Linked DNA regions of Homo sapiens: regions 1 and 2 are each linked to region 3. Evidence: fine-mapped expression QTL. A gene starts in region 3. Each other region holds a variant in brackets. All regions are shown on one strand. Distances are between the middles of the regions.

Region 1 (8,181 bases), 22 kb before region 3:
GTGATAGTATCTATTTAAAGTTTTAACTTATATAAAGTTGGAAAAAAACCTTCTAGCACTAGGAGAGTGATATAGTAAACATGGCACTTCAATTGTGAAATATTTATTGGGTAGGAGTCATGGCTGACAAGACCAGTGTTGGGGAATCAGCAGGCCAGCCTCCTCCTCCTTGGGTTAGCTTAAAGCTGTAGGCTTGGTCCAGTTCTCTGACCACTGCAGTTGATATTAGCCACCCATGTTGTGCTATTTACTTGCATGGTACAATTGGTACCATGCAAGGTAATTCAGTTTATCTCCTCTAACGTCTTAAGGATCTCAGCTTTTGTTAAAGATTATACCTAGACAAGATTAGAGAGTGAATAATCAGGAGAGTTTGTTTTTTCAAACTGGTTACATTAAATTATAATTGTTGAGGGTGTAGATTATCTATTAGGAAATTGAGCAGTTGGGGAATGGTTTAGTAAAGTATGCGTCTGTTAGAATTTATAATTGTAAGTACTGTGGGAACCTACAGAAATGACTAGGACAAGGAAAAGAATACAAAAATGGTTTGTACACTGGTTACAGTCACATAAACATAGGCATTCAGGTGAAGAAGAATGGAGAAAACAGGTAAAAATAAAAATAAGTACTGTCTTTGTGATGTGGTTATTCATGATCCTTCCATATTGCTTTTGAATGACATATTTATCTAAGCAACTGTTGTAAGTTAAAGCTAAAACTGACTGTTCTTTGATCAATTTTGAATGTTTAGGATACAGCAGTTAAAACAGTTACTGGAGGATTCTACCTCAGGTGAAGATAGGAGCAGCTCCAGTTCCTCTGAAGGTAAAGAGAAACACAAGAAAAAGAAGAAGAAAGAAAAGCATAAGAAAAGGAAGAAAGAAAAGAAAAAGAAGAAAAAACGGAAGCACAAATCTTCCAAGTCAAATGAGGGTTCTGACTCAGAGTGACAAGGATGTGACTTGTTCAACATTCTCTTCTCAAACACTGACCAAGGAACAGAGGAAGATGCAGTCAGAGAAAGTAGCAGGATAGAGACGCCGAGAGAGGAGTATATGTGGGTCACAGCAGTGAGCTCCCACCCGCCTTGCAGTGAAGATGTGACCCCAGGAGAGGGAGTGTCTCCTTCCAGGTGCTAGCTCTGGACAGCAGCTGATTTTAGGCAGGAAAGTTTCTTCATCGTTGTCCTCCCTGCTGGTCACATGAGTTTACGATTCCTTAGAAGTGTCTCCCACAGGGTGGCAGGACTGGGAGAATCTCTGAGGCGTGTCTTCCAGGCCCTCCCACAGCTTGTGCCCTCCACAGTGTAGACTTGAACACTTGGCCTCATGTGATCCTTCCACCTTGGCCTCCCAAAGCATTGGGATTACAGGCGAGAGCCACTGGTTGGCTAAAATATTTATATTTACCTGACATGATTTGTTGATTTGGGGGCTAGGGAGTTCTTAAAACAACAATAAAAAATCTTCTGTGGCTGCATTCTACTTCACTTGCTTTCTACTGCCAGAGTCCCATGATTTTCACAGAGTGACTGACTCAGAAAAGGTTTAGGAATATAGGGGGATTTGTGTACTAGGTCAGGTATCCACATCCCAAAATCCATCCCTCCCTTTCTTCCTCTTCCTGTTGCCTGACCACAGCCCACCTGTGCTCTTGTAGCTGAAACTAGGCCACAGTAGAGGCATCTCAGGAGGCCAGGGTGTGTCTGCAGCTGGAGGAGAGGAAGTCTATCCTTTGCTGCGCCAAAGTGAAGCGGATCTTGCTCATAGGCAAGTGTGTCCCTCTGTGGCTAGCACTGGTCTCTTGCTGCTTTAGGCACTCAGTCAGGGTCCCAGAAACTCACTCCCATTTTCTGCCACTTTTCCTGGGGTTTGGATTCCCTCCTTTTTAAGGAACAGCCAAGCCAGGCCCAGACTGACCCTTCTTCAAGTCTCATCAGTCAATGCTCCTGTTCTTGGCCTCGGAATACCACCTCAGGAAAACAATCGGTTGAGATTGGAATGGCCAGGACTTAACTATTTCTGAAAACTGTAAGGCCAGTGGATTCAGCCTTGCCTTACACTTATCCTTGTCATGCAGAACACAGGCCATCTGTCCTCTGCCATATGCTCAGCATTTCTTACCCAGGTACAGCCGGTCCTCTTCTTCCAGGAATTGGCTACTGTCCCTCTGCAATCCCATTCATGATAAAAGCATTCTTATACAACACAAAAGATGCTGCATCAATGATTCTCAAACCTCCAAGACATCCAAATCAACTAGCATGCTTAAGATGCAGATTCCTGTGCTCGACTCACCAACTTCCAGAATTTTCCATTCCCTAGGTCTGAGGTGAACCTGGGAATCTGCCTTGCTAACAAATGATGCTGACACTGTTGATTTGGGGACCCCACTTGGAGAACCTGGGCTCTAGATCTCTACCCTCTTACTGAAGCCTTCTTCCACTTCCTGCTTTAACTGGAATCCAGCCGTCCACCCCTGTAGCCCTTGCAAAGTGAATCGTCCCTTTTCCCTCACTCTGTTTTTTTCTCCTCTGTTTCTAGCCTAGATTCCAAGGAACATCACTTTGGCCTGTCATCTCCCCTGATCTGTGATCCTTTTGTCCAGCTTTCCCCAAAGAAGCATCAATCAAAATCTTCCGCTTTGCTCCTATAGACAGACTACAGGGGAAAAATCCCAGAGCCCCTACAAATCCATCTCCAAACTCAAATGAGAACTGAGCTCAAAAAGCCCACTAGCAAACCAGAAGTGTGCTAGCCACCCACTTAAACTTTCTTTTTCAGACATCTCTTTCAGATATACATTTTCCATTACTATCCAGGGAGACAAAATAAGCCCTTAAACCTCCCTTCACTCAGACATCGTATGATGAATGTCAGACATCCTACTGATATGGTTTGGATGTTTGTCCGCTCCAAATCTCATGATGAAATGTAATCCCCAGTGTTGGAGATGAGGCCTGGTGGGAGGTGTCTGGATGATGGGGGCAGATCCCTCATGAATGGGTTAGTGCCATCCCCTTGGTGATGAGTCAGTTCACACCAGATCTGGTTGTTTAAGTGTGAGTGGCACCTCTCCCTCCCTCTTTTGCTCTGGCTGTTGCTGTCACCATGTGATATGCTGGCTCCTCATTGCCTTCCACCGTGACTGTAAACTTCTTGAGGCCTCACCGGAAAGATATTCCAGCACCACACTTCTCGTACTGTCTGCAGAACCTTGAGCCAGGCAGGTGTCTTTTCTTTATAAATTACCCAGGCTAAAATGGCATCATGATTTCTCCCACTAATCTTCAGACTGTTAATAGGATGCACTTTACTCCTGTGACTAGATTGTGTTACCAGTACAAGGAAAGGGAGACCACCTGGGTGTTCCTAACCAAATCATGAGAACCCTCTGGAACTCGATTTGTCCCTGGCTGTTAACCAAAGAGGAGGTCAGAGAGTCCAAGCCTGTGAAAGATTCCACGCATCATTACTGGTTTTAGAGTTGAAGGGGCCACATGGTGAGGGATGCAGCAAACTCTCATCAAAGGTTCCTGACTAACAGCCAGCAAGGAAATGGAGCTCTCAGTCCTACAGCTGAAAAGATCCGCATTCTGCCACCCTCAATGGTTCTGGATGCATATTCTTACCCAGAGCCTCCAGATGGAAGCCCACCTCTGCTGACATCTTCGGTTGGGGTTTGTGAGATGCAAGGTCGAGAACCCAGTTGAGCCTGCTCAGGCTTCTGACCTACACCACTGTGAGGTAATCAGTGGTGGTGGTTTTGAGCTTTTACATTTGTGAGAAAGTGTTAATGCAGCAACAAACTGATCCAGAGGTTTAATGAGCTTTCCCTCCTCCTCTCAGGCCAGTCCATCACCTATGCTCTGGATCCCACCAACAGCCAGCAGTAGGGGGCAGTGGCTGGAGCACTGGCCCTGCATCCAGACTGCCTGGCTTTGAATCCCAGCTTTGCTAGCTGTGGAGTTGCTCCACCTCTCTGTGCCTCC[G/A]TGTCCTTGACTAATCATGTCTACCAGACTTCTAGTGAGAATAAGGGGACTTGATATCCATAAAGCATTTAGAGCAGGGTGTGGCACATCTCAACTCTAAATGAATGTTACCTGCTCCTGCTGCTACTGCTGTCACCATCATCTAATCCTCAGGGAACTTCCTCCTCCTTTATCCCATGTCACTCACGTCTTCAAACTCTTCCTTTCTATTGTGATCTTGCCCCAGTATTTAAAAATTGTTTTGGCTCATGCCTGTAATCTCAACACTGGGAGGTCGAGGTAGGTGGATCACTTGAGGTCAAGAGTTTGAGACCAGCCTGGCCAACATGGTGAAACCCCATGTCTATCAAAAATACAAAAATTAGCTGGGCATGGTGATACACACCTGTAATCCCAGCTACTCGGGAGGCTGAGGCAGGAGAATCACTTGAACCTGGGAGGCGGAGGTTGCAGTGAGCAGAAATTATGCCACTGCACTCCAGCCTGGGCAACAGAGTGAGACCCTGCTCCCCAAACCCCACCAAAAAAAAAAAACAAAAAACAATTGTTTTAAAACTGTAAAATACATGCCCGTAAAGAGTTCACAATTCTGAGCCATTGGAGAACAAAAAGTGAAAAGGGAGTCTACTTATGATGCTTTGATACAGTGCTCCAGATCCTGATCAAAATGCATTAGCAAACACACACATGTAAATGCACGGTTTTTGGTTAGCTTTACATAACTGATAGACACTAGTAATACTGTTCTGTGACTTCATTTCACTCACCGTATGTTGGCAATTTTACTGCTCACTACAAGCTTCAAATGGCTACAAAATTCCTTGGTTTGAATGTGCCATGATTTGTTTAACCATTAATCTATTTATCAGAATGCAATTCTTTCCCATTTCTCATTCCTACAAAGAAGACTGAAAATAAAAATTTTTGAGTAAATATCTTTGGGGTTTTTTTTTTTTTTTTTTTTTTTTTGAGACAGAGTCTCGCTGTGTCACTCAGGCTGGAGGGCAGTGGCACGATCTCGGCTCACTGCAAGCTCCACCTCCCGGGTTCACGCCATTCTCCTGCCTCAGCCTCCCAAGTAGCTGGGACTATAGGCGCCCGCCACCACACCTGGCTAATTTTTTGTATTTCTAGTAGAGACGGAGTTTCACTCTGTTAGCCAGGATGGTCTCGATCTCCTGACCTCGTGATCCGCCCACCTTGGCCTCCCAAAGTGCTGGGATTACAGGCGTGAGCCACCGCACCTTGCCTTGAGTAAATATCTTAATGTATGTATGCAAGTATTTCAATAGAATAGTTACCTAATAATGGAATTACATATTTTAAGTTTGACAGATTCTACCAAATTACCCTCCAAAAGAGTCTACCAATTTATCCATTCTCTTACAGTATATAAAGTGGCCCATTTCCCTATCCAGCAGCATTTAAACAAGCTCAAGTCTCCCTTTAAAAGAAAAAAAAAAATCCGGAGGCCACGCACAGTGGCTCATGCCTGTAATCCCAGCACTTTTGTAGGCCAAGGCAGGAGGACCATTTGAGCCCAGAAGTTTGAGGTTACAGTGGGCTATGAGGGCACTGCTGCACTCCAGCCTGGGCAACAGAGTGAGACCCTGTCTCTGAAAAAAATAAAATCCTCCCTTGATCCCATGTCTCTATCTAGCACTTTTCTCTCCTTTACAGCCGTTTTGTCAACCTCGGACTCATTTATTTTAGGAACTGAATAATTCTAAGTGGTAGGGTTCGATTCTGTGCATTGTAGGGTATTGTGTGGCATCCCTGGCTTGTAACCACTTGATGCTACTAGTACATCCTCCAGTGGTAGCAACTAAAATTGTATTTGAATATGCACCTGCAAAAAAAAATTGGTCCCTTATCTTACACTATACACAAAAATCTGCTCAAAATGGTTTAAGGACTTAAACTAAAATCTGAAACTGTAAAACTCGTAGGAGAAAACAGGGAATAGACTACATTGGCCTTGGCAGTGGCTTCTTGGATATGACATTGAAGGCACAGGTAACAAAAGCACAAATAGACAAGTGGGATTGCATCAAGCTAAAAAGCTTCTGCACAGCAAAGGAAACATCAACAAAACAAAAAGGCAATACATGGAAAGGGAGAAAATGTTTGCAAACCATAAATCTAATCATGGGTTAATATCTACAAAATATAATAAACTCCTACAACTCAATAGCAAACAACCAGATGACCTGTTTATTATAACAATAGGCAAAGGGCCAGGAGTTAGAGGCTGCAGTGAGAGACATGATTGCACCACTGCACTCCAGCTGAGGCAACAGACCAAGACCCTGTCTCAAAAAATAAAATTTAAAAAATAGGCAAAGAGCCGGATGCGGTGCCTCACACCTGTAATCCCAGCACTTTGGGAGGCCGAGGTGGGTGGATCACCTGAGGTTAGGACTTTGAGATCAGCCTGATCATTATAGTGAAACCCTATCTCTACTAAGAGTACAAAAATTAGCCGGGTATGGTGGTGTGCGCCTTGTAGTCCCAGATGCTTAGGAGGCTGAGGCGGAAGAATTGCTTGAACCCAGGAGGCAGAGGTTGCAGTGAGCTGAGATTGTGCCACTGCACTCCAGCCCGGGTGACAGAGTGAGACTCTGTCTCAAAAAAAAAAAAAAAAAGCAAAAAACTGAATAGACATTGATTCCAAAGAAGAATGACCAGCAGGTATATGCAGAGGTGCTCAACAGCAGTAATCATTAGGCAAATGCAAATCAAAATAATAAGGAAATATCACCTCATACCTGTTAGAATGACTGTTTAAAAAAAAAACCCAGGCCGGGCACGGTGGCTCACGCCTGTAATCCTGGCACTTTGGGAGGCTGAGGCAGGCGGATCACGAGGTCAGAAGATCCAGACCATCCTGGCTGACACCATGAAACCCTGTCTCTACTAAAAATACATAAAATTAGCCAGGCGTGGTGGCGGGCACCTGTAGTCCCAGCTACTCAGGAGGCTGAGGCAGGAGAATGGTGTGAACCCAGGAGGCGGAGCTTGCAGTGAGCCGAGATGGCACCACTGCATTCCAGCCTGGGCGACAGAGCGAGACTAGGTCTCAAAAAAAAAGAAAAAAGAAGAAAACCCAAAAGATAACAAATGTTGGTTAGGACGTGAGGAAAGAGCCCTTAGACACTGTTGATGGGAAAGTAAAGTGGTGTGAGCACTGTAGAAAACAGTATAGAAGTTTCTCAACAAATTAAAACTAGAATTACCATATGATCCAGCAATCCCACTTCTGGGTATATATCAGAAGGAATTGAAATCAATCTTGAAGAGATTTGTACTCAGGTTCAGTGCAGCTTTATTCACAGTAGCACTGACATGCAAGCAAACTACACATCCATGATGAGTGAATGGAGAAAGAAAATGTGGTCTATCCATGTATAATGGAATATCCTTTACCTTAAAATAGAAGCAAATCTAGCCATTTATGACAACATGGATGAACCCAAAGGACATTATACAAAGTGAGATAAGCCAGACACGAAAGGCCAAATACCCCATGATACCACTTACAAGATGAATCTAAAATAGTCAACTATTTGAGGCCACAAGTTTTGACACCAGGCTGGGCAGTATAGCAAGAGCCCATCTCTACAATAAATAAAAAAATTGGCCAGCTCTGTTGGCACATTCCTGTAGTCCCTGTTACTGGCAAGAAAGCCCTAGGTGGGAATGGCTGAGGCCTTTGTTGTGATTGTCTCAGAGCCCAACTTCTCCCTCTGCCCAATCACATTCCCTTTGCCCTCTGAGATGTTATTCCCAAGAACACCAATGTGAATTTTCCCACAATCTCCGTCTCAGAGTCTTGTCCCCACACATGCAACCTGCCACAGGAGTCCAACAGCTTCCAAACATAACCAGACTTTTCATCTAGCCTCTAGGACAAAGGTCCAACTATGGGCAGAACTACAAAGCAGAAGTATCCACTGATTGGCCCCATTCTATTTTTGTGCTTCTTATCCACCTACTGTCAATTTTTTCCAACCTTCTAGAGTCCTGATGTCTTCCTACTGTAAAGACAGCCCCAGTCCATTGAAGTAACTACTAAGTACTACTAACAGAGTCAGTTTTTTCCACACTACTTGTACTGCTATTGTACAAGTGTTAAAAAGGCAATCAGATTCAATGTCTTCACACCAACACATTAAGGAAAATCCACT
Region 2 (8,181 bases), 53 kb after region 3:
CACAAGGAAGCAAAACAGACAGATAGTTCCGCAAAGCAAACACTCCATGTCTGCCCCATCTACTGTAACTCAAGTTGATGACAGGGGCTGACATGACCGAAGAACTTACAATCACTGAAATGTCCAAAAGACAAGAGCAAGAGGCAGAAAAAAGAAGCAAGGGGCATTAATAGTTCTTACACTATAAAATCAGCCCCTACATTGTCAGAATTGTCCTGTATTTTCACGTCATCCTTGTCACAACTCATTGTGTTTTCTTTATATAGATAACTTTGCTCACTTTAGCACAAATATGGAAGTCAAGTACAAGCATATACTCATTTGCATAGCAAATTTTAAAGGGGGCATTGAAATAGTAACCAATTGATAAAGGTATTGTCAGGCCTCTGAGCCCAGGCCAGGCCATCGCATCCCCTGTGACTTGCACATATACATCCATATGGCCTAAAGTAACTGAAGATCCACAAAAGAAGTAAAAACAGCCTTAACTGATGACATTCCACCATTGTGATTTGTTCCTGCCCCACCCTAACTGATCAATGTACTTTGTAATCTCCCCCACCCTTAAGAAGGTTCTTTGTAATTCTCCCCACACTTGAGAATGTACTTTGTGAGATCCACCCCTGCCCACCAGAGAACAACCCCCTTTGATTGTAATTTTCCATTACCTTCCCAAGTCCTATAAAACGGCCCCACCCTTATCTCCCTATGCTGACTCTCTTTTCGGACTCAGCCCACCTGCACCCAGGTGAAATAAACAGCCATGTTGCTCACACAAAGCCTGTTTGGTGGTCTCTTCACATGGACGCGCATGAAATTTGGTGCCGTGACTTGGATCGGGGGACCTCCCTTGGGAGATCAATCCCCCCTCCTTCTGCTCTTTGCTCCATGAGAAAGATCCACCTACGACCTCAGGTCCTCAGACAGACCAGCCCAAGAAACATCTCACCAATTTCAAATCCGGTAAGCGGCCTCTCTTTACTCTCTTCTCCAACTTCCTTCACTATCCGTCAACCTCTTTCTCCTTTCAATCTTGGTGCTACACTTCAATCTCTCCCTTCTCTTAATTTCAATTCCTTTCATTTTCTGGTAGAGACAAAAGAGACACGTTTTATCCGTGGACCCAAAACTCCGGCGCCGGTCACGGACTGGGAAGGAAGTCTTCCCTTGGTGTTTAATCATTGCAGGGACGCCTCTCTGATTATACACCCACGTTTCAAGGGTGTCAGACCACGCAGGGACGCCTGCCTTGGTCCTTCACCCTTAGCGGCAAGTCCCACTTTTCTGGGGAAAGGGCAATTACCCCAACCCCTTCTCTCCTTGTCTCTACCCCTTCTCTGCTTTCCTGGGGAATGGCCAAGTACCCCAACCCCTTCTCTCCTTGTCTCTACCCCTTCTCTGCTTTCCTGGGGCAGGGGCAAGTACCCCTCAACCCCTTCTCCTTCACCCTTAGTGGCAAGTCCCGCTTTTCTAGGGGGAAAGAACCCCCAAACCCCTTCCCTTCATGTCTCTACGTTCTCTTTTCTCTGGGTTTGCTTCCTTCAATATAGGCAACCTTCCACCCTCCATTCCTCCCTCTTCTCCCTTAGCCTGTGTGCTCAAGAACTTAAAACCTCTTCAACTTACACCTCACCTAAAACCTAAACACCTTATTTTCTTCTGCAACACCGCTTGGCCCCAATACAAACTCGACAGTAGTTCCAAATAGCCGGAAAATGGCACTTTGAATTTTTCCATCCTACAAGATCTAAATAATCCTTGTCGTAAAAGGGTCAAATGGTCTGAGGTGCCTGACATCCAGGCATTCTTTTACACATCAGTCCCTTCCTAGTCTCTGTGCCCAGTGCAACTCGTCCCAAATCTTCCTTCTTTCCCTCCCGCCTGTCACCTCAGTCCCAACCCCAAGCATCACCAAGTGTTTCTAATCTTCCTTTTCTACAGACCCATCTGACCTCTCCCCTCCTCGCCAGTCCAAGCTAGGTCCCAATTCTTCCTCAGCCTCCGCTCCTCCACCCTGTAATCTTTTTATCGCCTCCCCTCCTCACACCTGGTCCGGCTTACAGTTTCGTTCTGTGACTAGCCCTCCCCCACCTGCCCAGCAATTTACTCTTAAAAAGGTGGCTGGAGCCAAAGGCATAGTCAAGGTTCATGCTCCTTTTTCTTTATCCCAAATCAGAAGCGTTTAGGCTCTTTTTCATCAAATATAAAAACCCAGCCCAGTTCATGGCTCGTTCAGCAGCAACCCTGAGATGCTTTACAGCCCTAGAAACTAAAAGGTCAAAAGGCCATCTTATTCTCAATATACATTTTATTACCCAATCTGCTCCCGACATTAAATAAAACTCCAAAAATTAAATTCCGGCCCTCAAACCCCACAACAGGATTTAATTAACCTCGCGTTCAAGGTGTACAATAATAGAAAAAAGTTGCAATTCCTTGCCTCCACTGTGAGACAAATCCCAGCCACATCTCCAGCACACAAGAACTTCCAAACGCCTGAACCGCAGCGGCCAGGCGTTCCTCCAGAACCTCCTCCCCCAGGAGCTTGCTACAAGTGCCAGAAATCTGACCACCAGGCCAAGGAATGCCTGCAGCCCAGGATTCCTCCTAAGCCGTGTCCCATCTGTGTGGGACCCCACTGGAAACCGGACTGTTCAACTCACCTGGCAGCCACTCCCGGAGCCCCTGGAACTCTGGCCCAAGGCTCTCTGACTGACTCCTTCTCGGCTTAGCGGTTGAAGACTCATGCTGCCCGATCGCCTCAGAAGCCCTGTAGACCATCACGGACGCCGAGCTTTGGGTAACTCTCACAGTGGAAGATAAGTCCGTCCCCTTCTTAATCAATACGGAGGCTACCCACTCCACATTACCTTCTTTTCAAGGGCCTGTTTCCCTTGCCTCCATAACTGTTGTGGGTATTGACGGCCAAGCTTCAAAACCCCTGAAAACTCCCCCACTCTGGTGCCAACTTGGACAACACTCTTATGCACTCTTTTTTAGTTATCCCCACCTGCCCAGTTCCCTTATTAGGCCGAGATATTTTAACCAAATTATCTGCTTCCCTGACTATTCCTGGACTACAGCTGCATCTCATTGCCACCCTTCTCCCCAGCCCAAAGCCTCCTTTGCATCTTCCTCTCATATCCCCCCACCTTAACCCACAAATATGGGACATCTCTACTCCTTCCCTGGCAACCGATCACATGCCCATTACCATCCCGTTAAAATCGAATCACCCTTACCCTGCTCAACGCCAATATCCCATCCCACAGCATGCTTTAAAAGGATTAAAGCCTGTTATCACTCGCCTGCTACAGTATGGGCTTCTAAAACCTATAAACTCTCCTTACCATTCCCCCATTTTACCTGTCCTAAAACCAGACAAGGCTTACAAGTTAGTTCAGGATCTGCGCCTTATCAACCAAATTGTTTTGCCTATCCACCCCATGGTGCCCAACCCATATATTCTCCTATCCTCAATACCTCCCTCTATTACCCATTATTCTGTTCTGGATCTCAAACATGCTTTCTTTACTATTTCTTTGCACCCTTCATCCCAGCCTCTCTTTGCCTTCACTTAGACTGACCCTGACACCCATTAGGCTCAGCAAATTACCTGGGCTGTACTGCCGCAAGGCTTC[A/T]CAGACAGCCCCCATTACTTCAGTCAAGCCCAAATTTCATCCTCATCTGTTACCTATCTCAGCATAATTCTCATAAAAACGCACATGCTCTCCCTGCTGATCGTGTCCGATTAATCTCCCAAACCTCAATCCCTTACAAAACAACAACTCCTTTCCTTCCTAGGCATGGTTAGCATGGTCAGAATTCTTACACAAGAGCCAGGACCACACCCTGCAGCGTTTCTGTCCAAACAACTTGACCTTACTGTTTTAGCCTAGCCCTCATGTCTGCATGCAGCGGCTGCCGATGCTTTAATACTTCTAGAGGCCCTAAAAATCACAAACTATGCTCAACTCACTCTACATTTCTCATAACTTCCGAAATCTTTTTCTTCCTTATACCTGACGCATATACTTTCTGCTCCCCAGCTCCTTCAGCTGTACTCACTCTTTGTTAAGTCCCACAATTACCATTGTTCCTGGCCCGGACTTCAATCTGGCCTCCCACATTATTCCTGATACCACACCTGACCCCCATGACTGTATCTCTCTGATCCACCTGACATTCACCCCATTTCCCCATATTTCCTTCTTTCCTGTTCCTCACCCTGATCACGCTTGATTTATTGATGGCAGTTCCACCAGGCCTAATCGCCACACACCAGCAAAGGCAGGCTATGCTATAGCACAAGCCACTATCCCGCCTCTTAGAACCTCTCATTTCCTTTCCATCGTGGAAATCTATCCTCAAGGAAATAACTTCTCAGTGTTCCATCTGCTATTCTACTACTCCTCAGGGATTATTCAGGCCCCCTCCCTTCCCTACACATTAAGCTCGCTCAATTCATCCAAAACCGTATCCAGGCCATCACCAATCATTCTATACGACAAATGTTTCTTCTAACATCCCCACAATATCACCCCTTACCACAAGACCTCCCTTCAGCTTAATCTCTCCCACTCTAGGTTCCCACGCCACCCCTAATCCCGCTTGAAGCAGCCCTGAGAAACATCACCCATTCTCTCTCCATACCACCCCCCAAAAATTTTCGCCGCCCCAACACTTCAACACTATTTTGTTTTATTTGTCTTATTAATATAAGAAGGCAGGAATGTCAGGCCTCTGAGCCCAGGCCAGGCCATCGCATCCCCTGTGACTTGCACGTATACATTCAGATGGCCTAAAGTAACTGAAGATCCACAAAAGAAGTAAAAACAGCCTTAACTGATGACATTCCACCATTGTGATTTGTTCCTGCCCCACCCTAACTGATCAATGTACTTTGTAATCTCCCCCACCCTTAAGAAGGTTCTTTGTAATTCTCCCCACACTTGAGAATGTACTTTGTGAGATCCACCCCTGCCCACCAGAGAACAACCCCCTTTGATTGTAATTTTCCATTACCTTCCCAAATCCTATAAAATGGCCCCACCCTTATCTCCCTATGCTGACTCTCTTTTTGGACTCAGCCCACCTGCACCCAGGTGAAATAAACAGCCATGTTGCTCACACAAAGCCTGTTTGGTGGTCTCTTCACACGGACGCGCATGAAAGGTATGAGTCATTTTTATAATTAGAATGACATTCAAATTGACCAAATAAAACATTTTCTATTTGAAAACAGTTACCTATAAAAGTTTTTGGGATATGAACAACACATGACTTAGCAAAACATTAAAACCATTAGAGATGTAGTTCTCCGTAGGCAGCAGGTCATGTAGCAGTCATTCTTTTACAACTTCTAGGACTTTGTAAACACTGTTCTGGAATACAGTGGTGAAGTGAGGTTTGGAATCCTTCACCAAGAGGTTACATAAGGGAGTTTTCCCAGCATTGGCAGGATCTTCTACATCCCAAATTTCAGGCATACTGCAACCAGGCCTAGAAAAATGAATGTACATGTTAAAAATCAGTATGCATTATATAACTGCAGAGAAAGCAGGGCACTTCTTACATTCCTGATCTCATTTCCTTTTTTCCCCTTAAATTACTTTAGTTTTTAAACAATCCTGTCATGTAGCTTTCATGCGCGTCCATGTGAAGAGACCAACAAACAGGCTTTGTGTGAGCAATAAAGCTTTTAATCACCTGGGTGCAGGCGGGCTGAGTCCGAAAAGAGAGTCAGCGAAGGGAGATGGGGTGGGGCCCTTCTGTAGGATTGGGGTAGGTAAAGGAAAAAGGGGGGTTTTTCTCCGGTGGGCAGGAGTGGGGGTCACAAGGTACTCAGTTGGGGAGCTTTTGAGCCAGGATGAGCCAGGAGAAGGAATTTCACAAGACAATGTCATCAGTTAAGGCAGGAACAGGCCATTTTCACTTCTTTTGTGGTGGAATGTCATCAGTTAAGGCAGGAACCCACCATCTGGATGTGTACATGCAGGTCACAGGGGATACGATGGCTTAGCTTGGGCTCAGAGACCTGACATTCCTGTCTTCTTATATTAATAAGAAAAATAAAATGAAATAGTGGTAAAGTGTTGGGACGGCAAAAATTTTTGGGGGTGGTATGGAGAGATAATGGGCGATGTTTCTCAGGGCTTCTTTGAGCGGGATTAGGGGTGGCGTGGGAACCTAGAGTGGGAGAGATTAAGCTGAAGGAAGATTTTGTGGTAAGGGGTGATATTGTGGGGTTGTTAGAAGAAACATTTGTCATTTAGAATTATTGGTGATGACCTGGATACAGTTTTGTATGAATTGAAAAACTAAATGGAATAAGACAAGGAGAAAAACAGGTATTAAAGGACTAAGAATTGGGAGGACCTAGGACATCTAATTAGAGAGTGCCTAAGGAGGTTCAGCATAGCCTTGCCTGCAAAGATTATTTATTTACTATAAGAGTTAAGAGTGGCGGTTTGGGGCTAGCACCAGGAGATATCAGCTGTGATGGCTTGGAGAAACAGTGTAAACTGGCAGTGTAAACAAGAGCAGGGCACGTATGAGTAGCTGAGAACAGTGAATAGGAGTATGACTAGACAGAAGACAGTAGGGATGACAAGTTTTTTGGGGCACAGTCCAAGTTGGTCTGGTGTCTGGAATGATACTGGGGCCTAATAAAAAGGAGCATCTATATGGGAGCTCAAATGGGCTGTACTTTGTAGCATTCTGAGGACAGGCCTGAATTCTGAGAAGGGAAAGTGGTAAAAGTATTGTCTATTCCTTTTTAAGTTGGTGGCTGAGCTTGGTAAGGTGTGTTTTTAAAAGACCTTTAGTATGTTCTACTTTTCCTGAAGACTGAGGACTGTAAGGGATATAAAGGTTTCACTGAATACTAAGAGTCTGAAAAACTGCTTGGCTGATTTGACTAATAAAGGCTGGTCTGTTATCAGACTGTATAGAGGTGGGAAGGCTAAACTGAGGAATTATGTCTGACAGAAGGGAAGAAATGTCTGTGGTGGCCTTCTCAGACCCTGTAGGAAAGGCCTCTACCTATCTAGTGAAAGTGTCTACTTAGACTAAGAGGTATTTTAGTTTTTGTGACTCAGGGCATGTTGAGTAAAGCTAATTTGCCAGTCCTGGGTGGGGGCAAATCCTTAAGCTTGATGTGTAGGGAAGGGAGGGGGCCTGAATAATCCTTGAGGAGTAGTAGAATAGCAGATGGAACACTGAGAAGTTATTTCCTTGAGGACAGTTTTCTACAATGGAAAGGAAATGAGAGGTTTTAAGAGGCGGGCTAGTGGCTTGTGCTACAGCATAGCCTGCCTTTGCTGGTGTGTGGCAATTAGGCCTGGTGGAACTGCCATCAATAAACCAAGTGTGATCAGGGTGAGAAACAGGGAAGAAGGAAATGTGGGGAAATGGGGTGAACGTCAGGTGGATCAGAGAGATGCAGTCATGAGGGTCAGGTGTGGTATCAGGAATAATGTGGGAGGCTGGATTGAAGTCCGGGCCAGGAACAATGGTAATTGTGGGAGACACAGCAAAGAGTGAGTACAGCTGAAGGAGCCAGGGAGCAGAAAGTATATGCGTCAGGTGTGAGGAAGAAAATAGATTTTGGAAATTATGAGAGCTGTAGAGAGTGAGTTGAGCATAGTTTGTGATTTTAAGGGCCTTTAAAAGTATTAGAGCGGCAGCAGCCACTGCATGGAGACATAATGGCCAGCTTAAAACAATAAGGTCAAGTTGTTTGGACAAAAAGGCTACAGGATGCCATCCTGGTCCTTGTGTAAGAATTCTGACTGCACAGCCCTGCACTTCAGCAGTGTGTAATGAAAAGGGTTGGGATGAGTCAGGGAGAGCTAGAGTGGGGGCAGTCTCTAAAGCTGTCTTCAAGGAACGGAAAGGAGTGGGGAAAGGATTTAGGATCTATGGGGTCAGCTAGGTTTCCTTTTGTGAGTTTATAAAATGGTTTTAGAATGGCAAAACCAGGCATCTAAAGTTGAAAGTATCCAACCATGCCTAGGAAGGAAAGGAATTGTTGTTTTGTAGAAAGTGCTGGGTTTTAAGAGATCAGGTGGACATGATCGGCAGGGAGGGCACATGTGTTTTTATGAGAAGCCAAGATAGGTAACTGATGAGGAAGAAATTTGGGCTTGACTGAAGTAATAGGGGCTGTCTGTGAGGCCT
Region 3 (8,181 bases):
GTCAACATACCTAGAAATGGAATTATTGGATAATATGGTAATTCTATGTTTAACATGTGAAAAAGAATATGATATTAAAAACTGTTTTTAATAAATGCTTACTATGTGCTACGCACTTTGTTACACTGTCTTGAATCCTCATTCCTTCTTTTTTTTTTTTTTTTTTGAGATGGAGTCTCCCTCTGTTGCCCAGGCTGGAGTGCAGTAGCACGATCTCTGCTCACTACAACCTCCACCTCCCAGATTCAAGTGATTCTCCTGCCTCAGCCTCCCAAGTAGGTGGGCTTACAGGCACCTGCCACCACGCCCACCTAATTTTTTTTGTATTTTTAGTAGAGATGGCATTTCACCATGTTGGCCAGGCTGGTCTCGAACTCCTGACCTCAAGTGATCTGCTGACCTCTGCCTCCCAAAGTGCTGGGGTTACAGGCATGAGCTACCTGCACCCGGTCCTCATTCATTCAGCATAATATGACCAGGTTCAGATAGGTTAAATAACTTGCCAGAATCATACAGCTACTGAATGGCAGATTGAGGATAAAACTCAGTTTGGTGCTTATACACTTCCATTTCCTATGTGGGTCTCATGGTTTGATTGTCTTTGTGGGAAACATGGTTGGTGGTCTCATCTACTTCTTCCTTGCTGAGAGAACGAAGATGTTGTCCAGATTGAAGGAAAAAAAAAAAGGAATGTGCTCAGAGAAAGGGGAACTCTTTCCTCTCTCTCTCCCAACTAATGACTGGAGACCATAACAACAATCTCATTATCCTGGCCAAGAAGACATCAGGGGTACTCTGTTCGGGATTCTGAGACATATTTTTCCTACCTGATTAGAAGAGAGAAGGGAGAAGAAAAATCACCCCCTTTTCCTTTCTGCTCATACTACTTAAACTATATTGCTGAGATAATATGGCAGTTCCTAAGATTTGAAGTGATGCTGGGAAGCAATTTGGTAGGAGGACAGAAGTCAGTAAAGCAGAGTGGTTAAGATCATAGACTCTGGGTGGGGCATAGAGGCTCACATCTGTAATTCCAGCATTATGGGAGGCTGAGGCCAGAGGGTTGCTTGAGGCCAGGGGTTCGAGACCAGCATGGGCAATGTAGCAAGATCCTATCTCTACAAAAAATTTTTAAAAATTACCTGGGTGTGGTGGCACATGCCTGTAGTCCCAGCCAATTGGGGGGCGGAGGTGGGAGGATCACTTGAGCCTGGGAGTTCGAGGCTGCAGTGAGCTGCGATCACACCACTGCACTCCAGCCTGGGCGACAGAGTGAGACCCTGTCTCAGAAAAAGAAAATGCAGACTGGGCAACATGGCGAGACCCCTCTACACAAAAAATACAAAAATTAGCTAGGCGTGGTGGTCATTCTACTGCCTCAGCCTCCCGAGTAGCTGGGATTACAAGTGCCGACCACCACGGCCAGCTAATTTTTGTATTTTTAGTAGAGATGGGGTTTCACCATGTTGGCCAGGCTGGTCTCAAACTCCTGACATCAGGTGATCCCCCCGCCTCGGCCTCCCAAAGTGCTGGGATTACAGGCGTGAACCACCTGTGCCCGGCTGCATGTTTATTTTTCTAGGAATCATTACTATCTTCTTTCTGTTCTAGAATCATAACAATGTTTAAAGTACAGTTTTAGGATGATACTTTTTGTGGCCATCAGTTGAAAGGAAAGATGACTTATTAATAATTAAAAGGAAAGATGCCTTGTTAATGGAAAAGGGTTGCATGAAATAATGTTTTGGATACAGATCACAAGAGAGATGCTGTACATTCCAAAAGAGTTTGTGTAACTGCTAGAAGATACTGATGTATGACTCCCTAAAATGGACACTGGAACTTGCTGTGATCACTCAGAGCCTTCTAAGCTCAGAGACAAGATCTCTAAGGGAATTAAGATGGTGTTTTAGGCGGAACATCAAATTAACGATGCCAAGAACCTACAGTTATTCTAAGATGGCAGCTGCAAAAGGAAAGCTGAACGGGAGTCACCCTCCCCTGACTGCACCAGTCCCTTCTTCCTCATTGTTCCAGTCCCCTGTGAGACTTTGTTTAAGGGGATGGGAACCTTGAGATAAGGGATGGCAAACAACTACAACTATTTGAGTATAAATGTTCAACCTGTTCTTTTCCCAGTTAAGATAACACACCAAAGCGATTGGCCTTTTTTGAAACCTAGGAACATCAATCCATCCTAACAGCTCTCAGGGTTTTAAGTGTTAAAGAAGGATGCTTTAAATATTAACTAACTAGCCGACTGCTATTTGTCTGACTTGTCTGACCCAATATCCATTCCCAGTGTTTTTCTCTTTTGTAATCTTTATAGGTGGCCAAATTACAATTCTAGACAATGAGATGTTTGTGGAAGTCTGCTGAGTTTGGGAGATGTAGTATCCTGAGAAAGCTTTCACTTTCCTGAAGAAAAAAAAGACCATGGATGGTGGAAGCCACCCCCTTTCCCCTCTTCTTGCCTTGAACAAAGGTGCGAAGGCTAAAACTGCTGCAGCCATATTGCAACCATGAAGTCAATGTCGAGAGAATCACAGAAATGATGGCCCTGCTGTTCTTGAGCTATTGAACCAACAAAGGTAACTGCCTACCTGTAGATTTGAGGTCTTGTTTAAGCTATTATAATGGAATCTTTTCGAAAAAAATGTGGGCCCAAATGCATTCCTAACTGTACAGCCATTAAAAGGACAACTTTAGTCCTCTCTTTCATCCTCACAATTCATTACTCCTCTTATAGTCACTGATAACACCATCTAATCACCCTAACTAAAAAACTCAGTTATCCTTGATTTCTTATTTCCCCTCATCCTCTAGGTAATCAAGTCTTATTTATCATAGCTGGCTAGTTTTCAAATGTATCTCTGCTTCTCCATTCTCACTGACACTGTTAGTTTGGACTTTCTCTCCAACTCATGTCTGGACTGCATTAACAGCGTCCTAACTAGTATCCCTGCTTCCAGTCTGCTATCTATCATGCTTTAGAATTTTTTCTCTAAAATCTTATCAAGATATTCTCCTGCTTAAAAATCTTAAGTGGCTTTTTGTTGCCCACAGGATGAATCACGAACTCCTTGCCGCAGGTATCATTTGTTGTTGTTGTCTGCATGTTTAGACCGCATCTCTCATACCCAATCTGGCACAAAGTAGGTGCTCAAGTGTGTGTTAAATGACTTTAATCTTTTGTATAGCTTGTTTGATATCATACCACTTAACTACTTAATTAGACTAAGTACAGTGGTAGCATGCTGGAAACTCAATGAAGATTTGTTGAATGTAGTTTCCAGATTCTACAGTAAAACAATCCTTTATCAGTAGTTCCTGATAACACGCATCTTGGTGTGCATTCAGTTGATCTAGCCTAGTTTACAGGAAGAGGCTCCCTTCAGTAATGTACTGTATGGCCTTTCAGATTATAATTAGTCATCTATATTCTCTAGATTGGGCTTGTGCCAAGACTGTAAGTTAGGAAGGTAGGTGGAGTCTGTGTGGGCATTTCTGACAATTTTTTGATCCACGAATAGCTCCTAGCAAATTTACAGCCTGCCTGCCAGCAAGCTGTGCCAAGTTAACTAAAACAGTACGGGCCACAGCCATTAGCTGCTGCTACAAACGCTTCGCTTTGCGAAGCAACGCTGAAGGCGCTCTTTTGGAACTCGGGGGGTTGGGGGCGTGCAGCCGCCGCATTGCAGCACACAACGGAAGGCTTCAGACGCTGGAGCTGCCGTCCGCACCCAGATGTCTCTCTCTCCCTTTTCCCCTAACCTCCCCCAACTGCGGGCCCTTTTGGGTGCTGCTCTGACTTCTTCCTTGGCCTTGGGAAAAGCCGAAGCGGCTCTGGAGAGAGGAGGGCATGGTTTGGAGAAGAGGTGCTGCGGCAACAAAGCGACCCGCCCAACGCCTCCTCAACTTTCTCCTGCCCCCGGTCTGGTATTGTTTAGTCCTACTCATTCCCACTTTCCGAGCCAGCCTGCAAAAATCTGTATTTCAGGGGAAATTCCAAGGGATAAAACACCTCCTTCAGCATAACAATTGGTGTTTTGCTCTCTAGATTTCCTAGCAATGAACTTGTCGGGCCTCTCCATCCGCCCGTCTAGGCCCAAGGCCTCGGCCGCCGCGGCTACTCGGAGTGCCCCTCTGCCGCGCACGCGCCCCTCAAGGGCTCTCCCATGACCTTTCCCGGGAACCCCCTTCAATTACGCTTCCCGTCACCTCGCGCCGCCCCCGCCCTTCCTGCTCTTTCCGTTTCCTCTTTCGCGCCTGCGCGGCCCCAATTGTTTTGGCTTTCCGGTGGCATCCGGCAGAGGAAAAGGGCGGGGGCAGCTAGAGTAAGGGAGGGGCGGGGGACGGTCGCGAGGACCCGGGAAACTGCAAAACTGCCGCTGGTGCCGACAGGCGCGCGCGCGCGCGAGGCGGGAGGGCGGCGTGGCGAGGGCGGGCGCGGCAGGCTGGCCAGCGGTCCATTGCGCGCGCGTTCCCGGGCCGCGGGCGGGGGCGAGAGCGCGCGGCGGGGGCGGGGGCGGGGGCGGCGGGGGCGGCGGGCCCGGCGTCTCGCGGCCCCGGACTGACAAGGCGGCGCGGGCGGGCGGGCGGCGCGGCTCCCGGGGGAGGAGTCTGGCGGTGGTCGGGCCCTGAGGAGCGTGCGGCGGCGCCCGCAGAGGACGCTGCTTTCCGCGCTGGACGGACCAAGCGAGGGAGGGTGCGAGGGGAAACCGGAAGGAAGAGGCGGCGGCGCCAGCCTTCCTCGGCCGGAGGCGGAGGCGAGACCCCAGGCGAGGCCGCGGCGGGAGGGCCACGCCCCCGCCGCCGCGCCGGAGGGGCCCAGTGTGGACGGGGCCACCGGCTGGAGCGGATCCCACACCTCCGGACCGAGGGACGCGGGTGAGCAGGCGACAGTAGCGCCGGGCAGGCTGGGAGCCCGCGGCGACCTGTGGAGGGGCCGGGGAGGAGGGCTGTGGCGGGAGGGGGCTCGGCCCTTTGTGGCTCGGCGGGTGGGAGGCGGCGGCCGCGGCATCTTTCAAACCCGAGACGCTTCCGCCGCGGGCGGGGGAGGGGCGCGGGCGGCCGGCGCCGCCCTCCGCACCCCGCGGCGGCCCCAGGGCGGCGGAGCTCCGGGCAGGTCCGCGGGGAAGGGGCGGCCCGGTACGCCGCTAGCTGGGCGTTTCCGGCCCCGGCACCGGGCGCCTCGGCGCCCGCGGGGCTCCCGGGCGGCGCCTTGGCCTCGGCTCGCGCCCGCCCTTACCGAAGTAAAGCTGTTTCCCTTAAAGACTCGCGACGTGTTCGCGACATGGTGGGCCGAAGGAGGACACCCCCTTCCTTCTGTATTCCCCCCGCGTACATCTGAACTAACCAAGAGAGGTCTAGACGAACAGAGCTCCTGTTATGGTCTATATCGACTTAAAAAAGAAAGCAGAAACTGCCCTTTGAAACGGAAAATTGTGTACGTGTTTACTTTGTGAAATCTTTAACTTCCTTGAATTCGACCACCTCCTTCTCCCTACGGATTGAACAACCGGGGAATAGAAAAATCGCTTAGTTTGGTGTGGGGCGGTTATTTTGAGTTAACATCTTTTTTTCCCTTGGGCTTAGCTATCTAAGAACTCTACCTGCCTCAAAAGGTAGAGGAGCGTCCATCCCACGGGCTACCACGGTGACCCCTTCCAGTGAAAATAGGAAAAGAATTCAAAATACAAAATGAACTTTAAAAGGGTGTGTGTGTGAACTATCTTCTGTGTCAATTAGCCTTATGAAGACGTAGGCAACAGGACTGGTCACGTGTTGTTTATACTTGAATCTGTACGTCGGGCTCACAGCATTTAGGCATTGAGAAACGAAACCCTATCAACGCTGTGCACTGACCAAAATGATATTTTCTTTTATCGAGGCAACTAATTAACAGGGATCTTCCCCCTCTTCCCTCTGAGTTGTACATTTTTGCCGAATTTGAGTAGTATGGGTCTTAGATCTCTTGTAATTGTGAATGACTTAGTTTGGTTAACCTTTGATAAGGACTTTTTTCCCCGACTTTTTTTTCTGATCTAAAGTAAATTGAAAAGCCAGTCGGTTGTTTTCTAATCTCGATGATGTGGAATTTTGCTATTCTTTCCATCTGGCTGATAACTAATGTTAAGCTTACTTCTTCACTTTGATCTTCTGTTGGCTTAGTGCTTATTGAAGCCCTTTTAGGTTGGGGCCTGGAATCCTCAAGAGGTTGTTTTCTGTCAGTAACTCGGGAGTGCTGTGGCCTTTCTGTTGAGCATGCTCTGTAGTCCACACGTTTCCACATAGTGGTGTTTTCTTTGCACAGTTTTGTAGGAAGACTTTATGAGTGCTGTAACTCTACTCCCCTTTTTGCTCTCATAAGAAGCATTATAAAATGTTAACTTATGTTATTCACAGGGCATGTAAGGAGATGGGAAGGAATAGAGGTATCAGTACATATGTCCATGCTCCTCCATAGATTTTCTTCTGGTTGGTAGAAATGTTGAGCTTTTCATTCCTAAACATTGAACATTGAATGTGCAAGGTGAATTCCTAGAAACTTGAATGCAGTCTTAAAAGCCAAATGATAACATTGGTTTTTCCAAAAATGTTACACATTTAGAAAAGAGTCCCCCTTCCCCTCTTCTCTTTGCCCACATTCCTAAGACAAGTAAGGCCAGGAAAAAGGATTGATCCTGGTGTCATAAAATATGAGTGAAAATTTCAAAGTCCTTTGTTAGCTTAATCTTTTCAGTTTTGTAGAGTTTGAATAGACCAACTGATACTTAAATAACTCAGTATTAGAAATGACAGGTTGATCTCAAGTAATTTTTTTTTGAGACAGAGTCTCTTGTCACTCAGGCTGGTGTGCAGTGTCACGATCTCGGCTCACTGCAACCTCCGCCTTCAGGGTTCAAGTGATTCTCCTGCTTCAGCCTCCTGAGTAGCTGGGATTACAGGCGCGCCCCACCAGGCCTGGCTAATTTTTGTATTTTTAGTAGAGATGAGGGTTCACCATGTTGGTCAGGCTGGTCTCGAGCTCCTGACCTCGTGATCCCCTCACCTCGGCCTTCCAAAGTGCTGGGATTACAGGCGTGAGCTACCGCAGACGGCCGATCTCAAGTAATTTTTTTTTTTTTTTTAAGAGACGGAGTCTCGCTGTGTCGCCCAGGCTGGAGTGCGGTGGCGCGATCTTGGCTCACTGCAAGCTCCGCCTCCCGGGTTCACGCCATTCTCCTGCCTCAGCTTCCTGAGTAGCCCACGCTGGGCTAATTTTTGTATTTTTAGTAGAGATGGGGTTTCACCGTGTTAGCCAGGATGGTCTCGATCTCCTGACCTGGTGATCTGCCCGCCTCGGCCTCCCAAAGTGCTGGGATTTACTGGTGTGAGCCATTGCGCCTGGCCACTTTTCCCCAGCTTTCTTAAGTCACTGCGCAGAGGTGAGAGGAAAAAGGAAAAGTGATACCCAAAATAAAAGGACATAGTATACTCATATGATTATTGTATCGCAGGTGGCATTGCCTTTATGTTCTTGTTTAATTTTTTAAAACTGAGATAACTTGTTAATCATAATATAGTACAGCTTGTACTTGTGACCTGAATTTACTTAGGGTGCTGAGCGTAATTAACCTGATGGAGCCATGTCATCTATCAGTATGGTTGGAAAGAGAGAACAGACCTAAGCTCTGAATGTGACTAGAGCAGAGGAAGCTATGCTGAAATTTTTTTTTTTTTTTTTTTGGGACGGAGTCTCGCTGTGTCGCCCAGGCTGGAGTGCAGTGATGCGATCTCGGCTCACTGCAAGTATGCTGAAATTTTTAAAACTTGATAGATTCTTCAAAAGGCCAGGTGTTTGTTTTTTTGGTTTTTTTGTTTTTTTTTGGTTTGTTTTTTAATTGATGCCTGTCACAACTCCAGAAAATTCTGTTTGTGTAGCAGTTGACAATCTAAAAAACAAATGGTCTTTTCCAGACATTCTCAACTGTCGTGGTTGTTTTGATAACTTGAAAGCAAACTGTTTCTAGCACCCATCTCTTGTCCTTCCTAAGGAGAAAACTATCTCATTGAAATAAAGAAAGGCTTGTTTTATGACTGGTGCCTTTCTGGACTCTCATTTAGTTTTTTACACTGACATCAGCCTCCTCAAGATTGGTCGTCTTTTAAGCACTAGTTTGTTTCATTATTTGTACC

What was found. PIP is the estimated chance that this variant, and not a neighbour inherited with it, causes the effect. A credible set is the group of variants that fine-mapping cannot tell apart.
Region 1: its variant is the best candidate, but not a certain one, in a credible set for the expression of KBTBD2 in whole blood (TOPMed, PIP 0.55).
Region 2: its variant is the best candidate, but not a certain one, in a credible set for the expression of KBTBD2 in whole blood (INTERVAL, PIP 0.70).

Annotation. Positions count from the first base shown.
Region 1 is chr7:32,910,116-32,918,296 of GRCh38, reverse strand. It overlaps the pseudogene RP9P. Among named protein-coding and RNA genes, the nearest start is that of KBTBD2, 22 kb to the right of the region's middle. The variant G/A (reference allele first, on the strand shown) is at 3,995.
Region 2 is chr7:32,835,735-32,843,915 of GRCh38, reverse strand. It overlaps the pseudogene DPY19L1P2. Among named protein-coding and RNA genes, the nearest start is that of KBTBD2, 52 kb to the left of the region's middle. The variant A/T (reference allele first, on the strand shown) is at 3,642.
Region 3 is chr7:32,888,245-32,896,425 of GRCh38, reverse strand. KBTBD2 (kelch repeat and BTB domain containing 2) reads left to right here and starts at 4,666. Exons shown (of 4, transcript NM_015483.3): 1 at 4,666-4,890. RefSeq lists enhancers at 4,117-4,176, 3,882-4,585, 7,141-7,666 and a silencer at 4,357-5,306.